Homo sapiens: one gene and its partners. The protein of the gene in region 1 interacts with the protein of each later gene in a pairwise test. Each region holds a gene or a part of one and is shown in the gene's direction. Other genes may lie near its edges.

Region 1 (3,500 bases):
TGGGAGGCTGAGGTGGGTGGATCACCTGAGGTGAGGAGTTCAAGACCAGCCTGGCCACCATGGTGAAACCCCGTCCTTACTAAAAATACAAAGAGTAGCCTGGTGTGGTGGTAGGCGCCTGTAATCCCAGCTACTGGGGAGGCTGAGAAGGAGAATTGCTTGAACCCTGGAGGTGGAGGTTGCAGTGAGCTGAGATTGCGCCACTGCACTTCAGCCCAGGCGACAGAGCAAGACTTCTTCTCAAAAAAATTAAATTAAATAAAAAATTAATAATAATAAAAACTTAAAAAAAAATGAAACTTGTTTGCCATCCCACTATTCAAAGGAAAAATTGAAGCTCTGAAAAGTTAAGTGACGTCCGCAAGGTCGCACAGTTGATTAGTAGCAGTGGAAATTAGAATTCCCCTCTGCTCCTCATTGCCTCCTCTAGTACTGACTTCCCAGGATGGGCTATGAGCCTCTTCCATAGCATTCTTAAGAGTTTGGAAAGAAAATTTCTATCTTCCCTTTATAACAGTAAGAAAAGATAGAAGAAACCGCTTAGAATTCTGAATTGCCATGCTCCCACTTGGACGGGGCTGTAGGGTTAGTCTAGAAGCAGTCTCATGAACCTGGGCAGTGACTGTCTTGGAGTTCACACATAGAATCACAATGAGCCTAGCCCTTCTGTAAAATACAGTAACCCTGCAACAACCATAGGCTTATTGTATTGAAATTCTCATGGAAAATAGGGGGGTCACAGTTTCTTCAACAAATAAATTGCACAGGAAAGGTGAGATAGAGTGGAATAATCTAAAGATTAAGAGACTTTATAGAAAAATTCCTTAGGCTAATTAGCCATCGGGGAAATGCAAATTCACATTATAAGCGGATGTCACACTAGACAGCTATCAGAATGGCCTGAAAAGAACGGAAAAGAACCAAGTGTGGGTGAGAGAGGAACTAGAACTCTCATATTCTGCTGGTGGCAGTGTAACTTAATACAACCACTGTGGAAAACAGTCTGGCAATGTCTATTCATACTGAACATTTGTATACCCTATGAGCCAGCAGCTCCAACTCCTAAGTATGAATCTAACAGAAATGCACTCATATGTTTACCAAAAGGCATGTACTAGAATGTTCACAGCAGCACATTGACCCAAACTGTAGAATACCCAAATGTCCATTCCTAGCTGAATGAATGAAGTCTGGTTTATTCACATGTAGGCATACTACATAGCAAAGAGAATGAATGTAAGTGCTCACACACATAATTTGAGTGAAAGAAGCCGGTCACAGAAGAGGACAGATTCTCCTACGTGTTTCTCTGTATGTTAGGTTTGGTTTTTAAAGTGTTTAGACCAGCTCTTAGTGGCCTGAAATGTAATATCTTTTGTGTTTGCATCAGCTTTTATTTCCTTTTCATAACTCTCAGAAAAACACCTGGCACATGCTTTTGGGCTCATGTTTCTGGGTGTAGAAGTCTATTAATTGAGAGGATGGAGTGCAGAAATACAGATCACCTTTCTCTGCCTTTTCCTCTGCCCAGACCACCTGGTCTGCAGAAGGGACAGGTAGCACCAATTTCACATACATGAAAATGCCAGACTTTAAAATGATGTTCTATAAATATGAAATGTTGATTGCTATGAGATTACTGCACATTCGACAAAAGCCGTGCACACCCACAAATAGCTTGCTTTGCTCTCTAAGATCCTATCAACGGAGTGTACTTGGCCTGTATTTAGACAAAGCCGGTGGTGTTGTTTACATCTTTGGCAGCTTGCTCAGTGTGGCTTTTCTATGAACAAAATGTGTGCCCAGCCCGGTGGGTCTGGCTTCTCAGCCAAGCGATTGTGTATTGATTGGTGGTGGGAAATGAGATATCTTTTCAGTTGGTCCATGTCCAAAGAAAAAAGTGCCTAATTGGACATCTGAGATGATATGGAAAAAATGAGAGCCTGCTGCTCTCATAGCAGGGGATTTCTGATGTATTCTCTGTAGTGCCTACCTTGGAATACAGTTCTGTGGTTTTCTTTGAGCAAAGCTGGCACTTGTCCCTTCTCACAGACCTAGGCAGGACATGATGTGTGGCTTTGATAAATTAAGGTTTTTATCCTATAAGCTGGATCCTTTCTCTCAGTGAGTACTATATTCTGTATCCTATCTCCATTAATGGCACTAATCTATGCAACCAAAACCTGGAAACCTGGGTCTCAGCCTGTGTCCCCCTTTCCTCCTCCTACCTAGTCTCCAAATTCCACTGATTCGCCCTCCTTCGGGGAGGGAGAATAGCTCCCCAAACCATTTCATTCTCTGTCCCCACCACCTATGAATCGCACCGGCCACTCTAAAGCAGTTCCACTAGCAGCTTTCACTGCCTTCTCTTCTAACCTCAGACATCTGTCAGAGAGCTTTTTCAAACTAGATCTGATGGAGTTTACTTACCTGCTTAAAATCATTCTGCAGCTTCCCATTGCCTACAGAATGAAGACCAAACACCCTGGCCCTCACTGCCCTTCAGAACCCGGCCCCATTCATCCCCCACCTTTCCCCTCTTCCTGCCATAGTATTCAGCCATTGACAGTTTTCTGGAATATACCATTTTTATACCTCAGTACCGTTTCATGTGTTCTGCCCAAAATATTCTTCCTCATCTTTTTCTAAACAGCAAACATTTTATCATTTAATATTCAACTTCTATAACCTCACCACGTCACCCTCTGGAAAAGTTGCTTTCTTCTGTTTGCTTGCACTGTGCCTTGTACATATGTCTGTCAGCATTTATCACACTAGAATGAAATGATCTACTTCCATGTCTGCCTTCCCTACCTGACCAGGAGCTGAAGAAGGCTAGGGATTCCACTCTATCCTTAGCTTTTCCTACACAGGGCTTATTAACCCTAGAAGGCCCCCAAATTTTGCTGTGTGAGTGAATGAAATCTCACTGGGCATAAGACCATCACCTCCAATTCTGATATTCATGGAGTATTATGGACCATTAATTATTCAAGATTCAAGTGAGGATAATAACCTGGAGAAATTGTACTTTTAATCTTGATAATTATGGTGTCTTAATACCTTTCCTTCTTCTAGGATTATGAATTAAAGTAACTACCTTGAATCTTTTGTGCATTAAAGCATAGTTGGACCCAAAAATCAGGTCTTGTCACTTGCCATTCCTCTATAATAGCCCCCTTTATTCATTTAACACTTTATATACTTTCTCTGTCTTCCTCACAAGTGGTCCTCTGAAGTACATGTTAGTCTGCTTTAAGAATGGGAAACTGAGGTTCAGGATGTTCAGTAACCTCTCTGAGGACATTCGGCTGGTAAATGTTAGATTTGGGATTTGAACTCAAGTCCATTTGACTCCAGAACTCCTGTTCTGTCTACTACTCGAGTGATCTTCAAACTTTTTTGCCTGTGAAACCCCTTACAGAATTTAGAAAAACTATAAAGTCCATCAAACATTTTAAATCGGCATGTAAAAATTTTTCATCTTGAATTTATGTACT
Region 2 (3,500 bases), on another chromosome or scaffold:
AAGGAATTTCAGAAAACCAGAGAGAGATGAGGATAAATAAAGTCTCAGATGTGGAAAAGCTTGGGGTGCTCAAAGAATAGGAAATAGTCAAGTGTACCTGGACGATACCATTTTTGCTTTTAGACATGCTGAGAATTTTTGACATTTAAAAAATGTTAAAGAGGGAAAATAAGCTGCTTAAGTATACTACATTTTGCATTTGAGTTAGTCTTATATTTATTTACATACTTATCATAAAACATATTCTTGTCTCTAGTTCATGACTTAATTTTAAATAGGAAATAAAATACCTTGAGAAGAGATTCTGCATGTCATTATGTAACTATGGTACTTAGTTTTGCCAGTCAAAACCACACATTGCCACGTGAAGGCCAGTAGTTTATTGAGTACTCAGGGAACAAAATTAGGTGGATTTTTTTCTGTTTTTTGTTTTTTGGGGTTTTGGATATTATACAGAGAGTGTAAAATTGCAATTTTTTTCTTCAGGAGACTCAGACTTGACCCTAAAATATGCATATAAACTTGAAGGCTCAAATAATGTTTTTTCCTAACCTGGAGGAAGAATTGTGAGAATAATGCTTTGCATAGAATCCTCTTCACCTTCTTTGCATGTTTCTTTTGGATCAGGCATAAAATAGGGGCCTGGTTTTGTTAGAGTGGGGGAAATAGTTGATGATATAATCACCCATTCCCTCTTAGTTGCAAATGGTATTGAAATTACAGAAAGTCATCTGACCACTAGTTGAGGTCACTTCTTTTCCCATTCCTGCCATTCCCCCATGTCTGGTATAACATTTGGCAAAATTGGTAACTGCTCTTGAGGGTTTTCATTTGTTTCTGTGTGTTCCTCTGAAATGTCATGTTTCTGGGGGAAGCAAGAACAACAGTACAATTTTCCACATTGAATCAGATGTTCATGTGATCCAAGCGTGCTTGGAAAAATCTTACTGCTTAGGATTCTATACAACATAGCTCTCTTGTGCAGTCTGTAGTTAGACAGTTAAAGGGCCCATGCCTCACCTGCAGGGTAGCCCTTCTGAGTGCGGTGGAAGCAGAGCTTTCTTGGAAAGTGAGACACCACTTGATCAGATCCATTGTGGAATTGAACAAGATGTAAGACAGAAGCATGGAATTCTGAAAAGTCAGACAATGCATTAGTGCACTCACATTGTCTTATATTTAGGTCTGTCAGGTTGTGTTATAATTTTAAAAATTAATTTCAAAAGCGATACATACTTATTATAGAAAATTTGTGCAAATACAGGAAACAATAGAAATACAGGGAAGAAAATATAGTCCATCTTAATTCTCCCTAATTTTCCTTGCATCTTAGCATTTTAGTGCTTCAGGATGGTATTTATTTTGGAACTTTAGTACATACAGGAACATAGAGAGACTACAGTATATATGTATATGTGTGTTCATACGTATGTAGTCAGATATCAGAAAAAATCATATTCTTTAAAACTTATTTTAAAATTACGGATATCACTTAGAGATACTGATGTTAGTATTTTGATATTTGACTTTTCAGTCATATATATACTTCTGTTAAAAAAACAAAAAATTCAATATGAACATATGGTTTTTATAAATTCTTCATCCACATACACTAAAATTTATTCCTTTTTTTTTTTTTCTCTTGAAATGGAGTCTCACTCTGTCGCCCAGGTTAGAGTGCACTGGCGTGATCTCGGCTCACTGCAACCTCCATCTCCTAGGTTCAAGTGACTCTCCCGCCTCAGCCTCCCGAGTAGCTGGGATTACAGGTGCATGCCGCCACTCCTGGCTAATTTTTTTGTATTTTTAGTAGAGACGGGGTTTCGCCATGTTGCCCAGGTTGGGCTCGAACTCCTGGGCTCAAGCGATCCACCTGCCTTGGCCTCCCGAAGTATTGGGATTACAGGCATGAGCCACCGCGCGCGGCCAATTTATTCTTTTTAGTATACAATACTGTAAGTTTTGACAGATGCATAGTTTTGATAGATGCACAGTTTTGATAGATGCACAATTTTCCAGAGTGGATGTGCCATGTTGCATTACCACCAGCAATGTGTGAGAGCTCCACAGATGGGAACTCATATTGTATCTTCAGAGTGTGGCGTTGTCAATTTTTCTTTTATTTCAGCCATTCTAATAGGTGTGTAGCACTATCTCATTGTGGTTTTGAGTTCCCCTCATGACTGAAGTTGTTAATTATCTTTTCCTGTGCCTTTTAATAATATATTCATGTTCTTTGTGAAGTTTGCCCATTTAAAAAATACTGGGTTGTTTTATTATTATTAAGCTTTGAGAGGTTTTATGTTTGCCAAATGAAAGCTCTTTGGCAAATATGTGATTTGCAAATGTTTTCTTCCTGTCTGTAGTTTATTTTATCAATAGTGTCTTAAACAGAGCAAAAGTTCATTTTGATGATACAAAATTTACCATTTTTCTTCTTTTTATGGAACCTCCTAGAAGTTTTAAAGTTTTAGGTTTTACATTTTTATCTATAATCCTTTTTTTCTGGTATATGTTGTGCAATTTTCCCTGCACCGTGTCTTGAAAAGATTGTCATTTTGCCATTGAATTACGTTTGCACCTTTGTCAAAAATCAATTGACTACATTTGTGTGTCTGTTTCTGGATTCTGTTCTGCTCCACTGATGTGTGTGTCCCTTCACAGGTACCACACATTGTTGATTGCAGCTTTATAGTAAATCTTCGAAGCAGGTAGTGAGAATCATCTAACTTTGTTCTTTTTCAAAATTTGTTTATGCTATTCTAATTACTTTTCCTTTTTGTTTAAATTTAGAATAATCTTGTTAATATCTACAGATAATTGTACTTGGATTTTTTAGTAGAATTTAATTGAATCTATAAAACGATTTGGGGAAAGTTGGACATCTTAACAATATTTACTTTTCCAACCCATGAACATGACATATCTCTTCATTTATTTAGATTTTTAAATTTCTTTCATTGATGTTTTGTAGTTTTCAGCATATAGTTTGTGCGTGTATTTTGTTAGGTTTATACCTATTTTATTTTTGATTAGTGCTATTGTGAATGGTATTTTTAATTTTTTTTTAGAAATTTTTATTTTCTTAGTCCATTTTGTGTTGCTATCACAGAATACCACAGACTGGGTAATTTATAAAGAAAAGAAACTTATGTCTTACAGTTCTGGAGGCTCAAAAGTACAAAAGCATGGTGCTGGCATCTGGTGAGAGCCTTCTTGATGCACCATAGCATGGTGGAAGGCATCACAGGACAAGAGAGGCATAAGAGAAAGAGCCAAACTAGCTTTTATGACAGACCCACTCTTGTGATAACTAACTCTCCTGTGATAATCTGTTAACACATTAATCCATTAATGGCAGAATCCTCATGACTCAATCACCTCTTAAAAGGCCTTACTTCTTAATACTGTTAGATTGGGGATTAAGCTTCCACATGAATTTTAGAGACAAAAACATTCAACGGCAGTGACCCTTTTATATTTAATTGACATTTTAATTG
Region 3 (3,936 bases), on another chromosome or scaffold:
GTAGCTGATTTCAACCCAGTTGTAAGCCTGGAGCACCTGGAGAAATCAGACCCAGGTGGGATCTCAAAGGTGGAGAGGGTGGGAAAGGAGCAAAAGAAAGAGAAGCGGTGCAGAAAGGGAGGGACACAGATTCCAAAGACATACCTGGCCTGTCTGAAGTTTGCCTCCTCCAGGAAGGGAAGGCAGCATTCTCCCGGTGCTGTCTCCCTCCTCCCCCGTGTACTGTGCACATCTCCTTCCCAGACTCAGCCCAGTTGCACCAAAAGCAAGCCACAAGGCCCATAGGCTAGTCAGACGCCCAACAACCCCACACAATGACACTTATGTGGGGAATTGTGTCCTGAGTCCCAAACGACTGACCCCCCCAATGTGCTGTGAATAAGCAGTGACCACAACCAGTACCACCTATGACTGAGTCGGGAGGCTGCTCTCTAAGAACCCCAGCTGCATGCCCTCTGGGACAAATCAGGCCACCTGGGGCTCCTTCACATCTCTCCAATGCTGTGTTAAACGCACTTTTAACCAACTTTGTCAAAATGCTCAGCTGGTAAAGTTTTAACGTAGGCCCTTGTCAATGCTTCAGAAATAAGCCTCTGGCGGCGCGACAGAGCAAAACTCCCTCAGGAAAGAAAGGAAAGAAATGGAGAAAGGGAGAAAGGGAGAAAGAGAGGAAAAGAAAGAAAGAAAGAAAGAAAGAGAGAGAGAGAGAGAAAGAGAGAAAGAGAAAGAAAGAAAAGAAAGAAAGAAAAAGAAAGAAAGGGAAAGAAAGAAGGAAAGGAAGGAAAGAAAAGAAAGGAAAGAAAGGAAAAGAAAACAAATAAGCCTCCAGGTCATTGCTTAGAAAGAAAAAGAAAAAAGAAAGAAAGAAAAGAAAGAAAAAGAAAAGAAAAGAAAATAGCCTCCCGGTCATTGCTCCTCTCTCTCTCTGCGGGTCCACCCCCATGGCACCCTCCCCCCTCCCCATGGTGCAAGGTTACAATGGAAAGTGCCTCAGCTGGAAAGGTCTCAGAATGTGGCTCAGGGCAGCCACAATCTTATCAGGAGCTTCTCTGTTTGGGATCAGGGGAACCGGTGACTTTCAGAGGCCGATAAGGCGGGACCCAACTTGTATATAAGGGGCAGCTCATGCTGCTGCTCTGCACCTTCCTCCCATCTTGCCTTCTCCCTCGAGTTGGGACCCGGGAAGAACCATGAAGTGGCTGCTGCTGCTGGGTCTGGTGGCGCTCTCTGAGTGCATCATGTACAAGTGAGTCCGGGTGGTGTGGGTGTGAAGACGCTGCCTCCCACATCACCTTTCTTTCCTCCCGTGTCTTCCTTCTTCCCTTTTTTTTCTCTCTCTCTTCAGCTGTCTCCATCCCCCTTTTCCGCCTCTCTCTCTGCCTTTTTGGGAGGCAGCCCTGCAGACATGGTTAAAACTCGGGCCCAGCCTGACTGTGGTTCCCAGCTCCAGCCCTAGTCAGCTTAACTTCTTTGCATTATGGGGCAGAAGTGGGAGCTTCTCCCTTCCTTCCATCTTCCTCTCTTAGATCAGCTGGTTAAGAGTCCAGCCTGGGTTTGGCTCCCAGCTCCAGCACTAGTCAACTTAACTTCTTTGCATTGTTGGGCAGAAGAGGGGGCGTCTCCTTTCCTTCCTTCTTCCTCTCTTAGACCAGCTTCCCTTCCCTTCTGGGGCTGCCACAGCACCCGGTCAGCAGAATCCTTGCCTAATTCCTCTTCCTTCTCCAAACCACAGGGTCCCCCTCATCAGAAAGAAGTCCTTGAGGCGCACCCTGTCCGAGCGTGGCCTGCTGAAGGACTTCCTGAAGAAGCACAACCTCAACCCAGCCAGAAAGTACTTCCCCCAGTGGGAGGCTCCCACCCTGGTAGATGAACAGCCCCTGGAGAACTACCTGGATGTGAGTGTGCGGGCAAGTGGTGGGGCCAGCTCTGAGGACTTGGCCCGCAGGAAAGAGGGTGTCCCAGGGGTCTTGGAGGACGGGCCTGGGCTCTGTGGCTCCAGGCAGTGACCCAGAGTCTGCCCCCTAGATGTCAGTGGCCCAGGGCAGGCAGGAAAGCTCACAGTCAGAGTTCATTCATTCATTCGTTCACTCGTTCATGCAATGTTAATTTCTCTGAGCGCCTCATTCTATTTCAGGGCCTGTGCTGGGCTCAGGGGGAGACAGCAGTGAGCAAACTCATAGCCTAGGAGACAAACACAGTCATCAAGGGGTCTCGCAAACCAATGAAAAGAACAGGCAGCAGGAGGACTACAGAGTGACGGTGTCACACTGCGAGAGTCTGCCACTTGGGCAGGGAGCCTCCCTGGAGCCACGCAGGAAGAGCAGGAGTTTCCAAGAGAACAAGACAGAACTCCGCATAGCCTGATCCCTTGTGCCAAACCCTGTAGCAGGCGGGAGCACAGTGCCTTTGAAGGGGAGCCGAGAGGGAGGGAAGAAGGGTGCTGCAGACTGCGGTCCGAGGAACTGAGGGGTGGACGCAGAGAGGCTCCATCCTAACTGCCTCTGATTTATCTTAAACAGGGGGATGACAAGATCAGATCTGAGTTTCAGAAAGATCACCCTGACTTTGTTATTTGAGACCCGATAGCAAACACCCTGCCCTCCTGCAGATATTGTATGTCCCCTCTGTGACTGGCACAGGGCACAAAGCAGTGATGCCTGTGGTTCAGAGACTGGCCTCTGCCATCCAGCAGACCTGGTGCAAATATGGGTCCTAGTGCCTCTAAGCCACAGGACCTTGGCCAAGTCATTTAAATACTCTGAGCCTGTGTCTTGGTCTGGAAAACAGAACCACTAATATCTACCGTCAGAGGATGTTGCCAGGAATTAACACGATCATGTTTTCTGGAGTGCTTAGCATGGGGTCTGCCAGGCCCTTGGTAAGAGGCTTAATTAGCGCATTTATTTAGTTCACAAATATTTAACAAATATTGGCACCTCTCTATGTGCCAGAGGCTATGCAAGTTGCCAAAATGATGGTGAATAATCAAAGTTCCTGGAGCTTATACTCTAAAGGGGATAACAAATAAACAACCATGTAAGATAATTTCAGGTAATGATAAGGGCCTTGGCAAATTAATTAATGGGAGCATGGGGAACAAGAAGATTGAGAGGGGGCAAATTTAGATAAAGTGGTCACGGAAGGCCTGTTGGCAGAGGGGACATTTGACTAGAGAGCTGAATGATTGATTTTTGATAAAAGGATCAGCCAAGGAAAGATCTAGAATAAACATTTTCCTAGCACAAGGAATAGCCAGTGCAAAGGCCCTAGGGCAGGAGTGACTGGTCATCGCCAAAGAACAGCAAGCAGACCAGTGTGGCGGGAACAGAGCCGGCAGGGGGAAAATGCTGCCACTAACAAGAAAAATACTGGTTGATTGGCGGAGGCGGGTGGATCACTTGAGGTCAGGAGTTCGAGACCAGCCCGGCAACATGGTGAAACCCCGTCTCTACTAAAAATACAAAAATTTGCCGGGCATGATGGCACACACCTGTAATCTCAGCTACTTGGGAGGTTGAGGCAGGAGAATCACTGGAACCCAGGAGGAGGAGGCTGCAGTGAGCCGAGGTCGCGCCACTGCACTCCCGCCTGGACAACAGAGTGAGACTTGTCTCAAAAAAAAAGAATAAAAATACTGTCAATGCCCTTTCTTGCAACCTGCTATACACATCTAGATGTAGAAATAAGAAAACTGGACAGGTTTCCATCTTTAAGTGGCTTGCTTAGCTTCTGATAAACAATTTAAGGCACAAGCACTTAAGCTGTAACTTGCCCGGTGCTAGAAGGTTCCACCGCCATCCTCTGAGAACATGCGCTGTACGGATGGGAAGACTGTGACAGACAAGACAATGGCTAAAGAGGGAACAGCAGATTGTTAGGTGCTTGTGGTGCTTAACAGAGAGCAGAGGGTAAATTGGGGGAGCAATCAGGGAAGAC
Region 4 (3,500 bases), about 26 Mb from region 1:
TCCATATTTTTGTGTTTGTGTAACACATTCATAAATAACATTACATGCCATCAGAGTTCAGCAAATTAACAAACTAATTTTTTTTTTCTTCCCTTCATGAACTAACACTTTGGGTTGTGGAATGTAGTCCTCAAAGTCATAAGGTAAAGAAACAAAAAGCAAAAACTCACCTTGTGTTGAATGTGAACTGCGGTTGGATAACAGCCTTTTCAGTGGGGTGGGTTTTGTTCATTTCTGGCGTTGCCATGCTGCTGTGTCGGGCACACGGAGGGTGGCGCGATCCACCCTGTCACAGCGCGTGTTCCCGTTTCCTCTTGATCTCCCAGGTATTTCTTTGCTGTGCTGGCGATCCTCACCATCCTCGGCGTTCTCAATGGGCTGGTTTTGCTTCCCGTGCTTTTGTCTTTCTTTGGACCATATCCTGAGGTCAGTAGTGACACGGGGATGTCCCACGTGTAGGCCGGCTGAATGCTGTGTTTCCTGTGCCGCTCTTCACTTCGATACTTAGGTGCCTCCCCACTTGCTGGTGGTTCTTCAGTAAACATCTCAGAGTCATGTCTGTTTTCCTCTTCGGTGTACTGGCTTTGAGGGCTAGAGGGCGGGTTCGGTTTGGTTCCTCTAAATCAACTGATTGGCAGCCTGGGTCTTACAGATCTTTATACAGTAAATGAAGACTTTCCCCTTGAGATGCATAATTGGACTTCACAAGAGTAAAAAGTACACATCCTGCCTTTCCAGTGTGGAGCAGAGGACAGTTCTTCTGCTCCAGCTGCGGGACCTGAAGGTCCTCCAGGTGGTAGAGAAGGGGAGGTTAATACGGCACAGTGCGCAGGGCCCCAGGGCAGGGAACAGAGGCCCCTGAAAAATACCGTGCTTTGAGCTTTGAGTGTGGCCAGCAGGTAAATGGACAAGAACACTTTTAACATGGAATCCCCTTAAATAGGTGTCTCCAGCCAACGGCTTGAACCGCCTGCCCACACCCTCCCCTGAGCCACCCCCCAGCGTGGTCCGCTTCGCCATGCCGCCCGGCCACACGCACAGCGGGTCTGATTCCTCCGACTCGGAGTATAGTTCCCAGACGACAGTGTCAGGCCTCAGCGAGGAGCTTCGGCACTACGAGGCCCAGCAGGGCGCGGGAGGCCCTGCCCACCAAGTGATCGTGGAAGCCACAGAAAACCCCGTCTTCGCCCACTCCACTGTAAGTGACTCTGCAGAACCAGGGGGAGGGGTCTTCCCACCGTGGTAGTGGGCCTGGAGGTCCAGCGGGGGCTCCTGTCTGCTGAGCAGCACATCACACAGGCAGATGGGATGCAGAGATAAGGTACAGACTAGGTCAAATCATAGGAAATAACCAGTATTTAACTCTTTCTCAACTATACAAATGCCATCTTCCTGTGGTTTGATCTCATAAAGGATAAAAAGGGCAGGGGCCAGTAATGTCACTGCACAAAGCAGTAGCATCTATCTTGTTCAGGGTGAGGACAGTTTGGGCTTCAAAGGCCAGAGATAAAGCATTCCTGCCTTTTTTTTTTTTTTCCTCTTAAGGTGCATGTCATTTGAGAGTGATATTTTCTAAAACTAGTAGTATTTTTATTGCCAACAGAGGTCAGGTTTTTTCCTTCTCTCATTTCTGTTAGGTTTCAATGCCCTTGATACAACATTCATTATTATTGTCTAAATACTTTACCATAGCTTTTGGGGCTCCAAGCTCATGTTCCAGGTGGCAGGAAAGAGCAGAGAGGCCAAGAACCACCCCTGAGTTCTTAGCCTTCAGTGATTCAGGAGGTCACCAGGAGCCTGGGAGCCCCTCCTCGGAGGCTCCAAGGACCTGGGTCCTTTCCTCCACCCTGTGCTCCCTGGGATGGGCTCAGCCCTGAAAACTCAAGGAAGGTTCTGGGCTGATGTTGCTCCACTGAGGGCCCCCTGCTGTCCCTCCAGGAAATGGGTATTCCAGTCCCAGGCCAGAGCAGCCCTTCCGTGAAAGAGAGAAAGGCCAACCAAATAACCTGAATTGTCCTCCTCCTACCCCCCGCGACGACGCCCGCTGAGCTGCAGTGTGAATCTGGTTTTGTTCAGCAGGAGCCTAAAAATAGGTACAAGCTGAACGACTTTGAAGTTGGTCACGGTCCTTTTGATTGATGTGGCCACTGTGTTGCTCTGTGCTTTGTATAGAGACGCAGAGACCAGATTCTTAACAATCAGATGGAACAGGCTGCCCGCCACAGCCCTCCGCAGTGACGAAAATGCCCTCTCTGCTTTCCAGGATGGGAGCCACCGGCCACACGTGGCTGTGGAGCACTTGAAATGTGGCCGGGGCTACCGAGGAGCTGGATTTTGGATTTTAGTTCATTAAAACTTAAGCAACCACATGTCTGGAGCGGCTACTGTGTTTGACAGAGTAGGCAGAGACAGTCCTGCCAGCGTCCTGCACTCAGGCCAGCCAGGGCCGCACACTTAGCAACTTCGGGAGAGGGGCAGCTCAGAGCCTGCAGAACCTAACAGGGTCGGGGGCAGGTTGTGGGGGGCAGCAGCTTGGATGCTCTGACCACAGCCCACATTTATGGGCAGCAGCAGTACGTGTCCAGCCAGCCGTGTCAGAGAAAGCCTGGAAACAGGATTTTCAAACAACACGCTCCTCCGCCAGGTCCTGGAGGTTATTAGAAGGACAGGCTTTTCTTTTGTGGGTGGAAGGCCCCCATTGGCTCCCCAGGGTTGACTGAGTCTTTGGTGAAACCCAAGGAGGGAAGTGTGGGAGCTGCGGGGACCATGCCCAGCCTGGGATACCACCCTTCTAACCCACCCTCACCCTCTGCAGGTGGTCCATCCCGAATCCAGGCATCACCCACCCTCGAACCCGAGACAGCAGCCCCACCTGGACTCAGGGTCCCTGCCTCCCGGACGGCAAGGCCAGCAGCCCCGCAGGGACCCCCCCAGAGAAGGCTTGTGGCCACCCCCCTACAGACCGCGCAGAGACGCTTTTGAAATTTCTACTGAAGGGCATTCTGGCCCTAGCAATAGGGCCCGCTGGGGCCCTCGCGGGGCCCGTTCTCACAACCCTCGGAACCCAGCGTCCACTGCCATGGGCAGCTCCGTGCCCGGCTACTGCCAGCCCATCACCACTGTGACGGCTTCTGCCTCCGTGACTGTCGCCGTGCACCCGCCGCCTGTCCCTGGGCCTGGGCGGAACCCCCGAGGGGGACTCTGCCCAGGCTACCCTGAGACTGACCACGGCCTGTTTGAGGACCCCCACGTGCCTTTCCACGTCCGGTGTGAGAGGAGGGATTCGAAGGTGGAAGTCATTGAGCTGCAGGACGTGGAATGCGAGGAGAGGCCCCGGGGAAGCAGCTCCAACTGAGGTGAGTGCCACTGACAAGGGCAGCCAAGGGACCTAGAGCCAGGCAAAGAGGAGGACAAGGTTCTCCTGGGGTTCTCGGCATCCCCGAGGGGCTGTGGCGCTCGGGCACATCCCACGCTGGACCCCAGTGACCTTTTATCCCCAG

Evidence for each region. The genes of interacting proteins can lie anywhere in the genome.
Region 2: the proteins of STOM (region 1) and AIG1 interact in binary tests that used the Homo sapiens proteins (3 or more experiments, as listed by UniProt).
Region 3: the proteins of STOM (region 1) and PGA4 interact in binary tests that used the Homo sapiens proteins (3 or more experiments, as listed by UniProt).
Region 4: the proteins of STOM (region 1) and PTCH1 interact in binary tests that used the Homo sapiens proteins (3 or more experiments, as listed by UniProt).

Annotation. Positions count from the first base shown.
Region 1 is NC_000009.12:121,342,751-121,346,250, reverse strand, and holds part of STOM (stomatin), read left to right. Parts: intron 1-3,500. UniProt on the Homo sapiens protein: Regulates ion channel activity and transmembrane ion transport. Regulates ASIC2 and ASIC3 channel activity.
Region 2 is NC_000006.12:143,067,389-143,070,888, forward strand, and holds part of AIG1 (androgen-induced gene 1 protein), read left to right. Parts: intron 1-3,500. UniProt on the Homo sapiens protein: Hydrolyzes bioactive fatty-acid esters of hydroxy-fatty acids (FAHFAs), but not other major classes of lipids. Show a preference for FAHFAs with branching distal from the carboxylate head group of the lipids.
Region 3 is NC_000011.10:61,221,211-61,225,146, forward strand, and holds the start of PGA4 (pepsin A-4 preproprotein), read left to right. Parts: upstream 1-1,136; 5' UTR 1,137-1,190; coding exon 1,191-1,246; intron 1,247-1,732; coding exon 1,733-1,895; intron 1,896-3,936. UniProt on the Homo sapiens protein: Shows particularly broad specificity; although bonds involving phenylalanine and leucine are preferred, many others are also cleaved to some extent.
Region 4 is NC_000009.12:95,446,767-95,450,266, reverse strand, and holds part of PTCH1 (protein patched homolog 1), read left to right. Parts: intron 1-326; coding exon 327-426; intron 427-943; coding exon 944-1,198; intron 1,199-2,815; coding exon 2,816-3,355; 3' UTR 3,356-3,356; intron 3,357-3,500.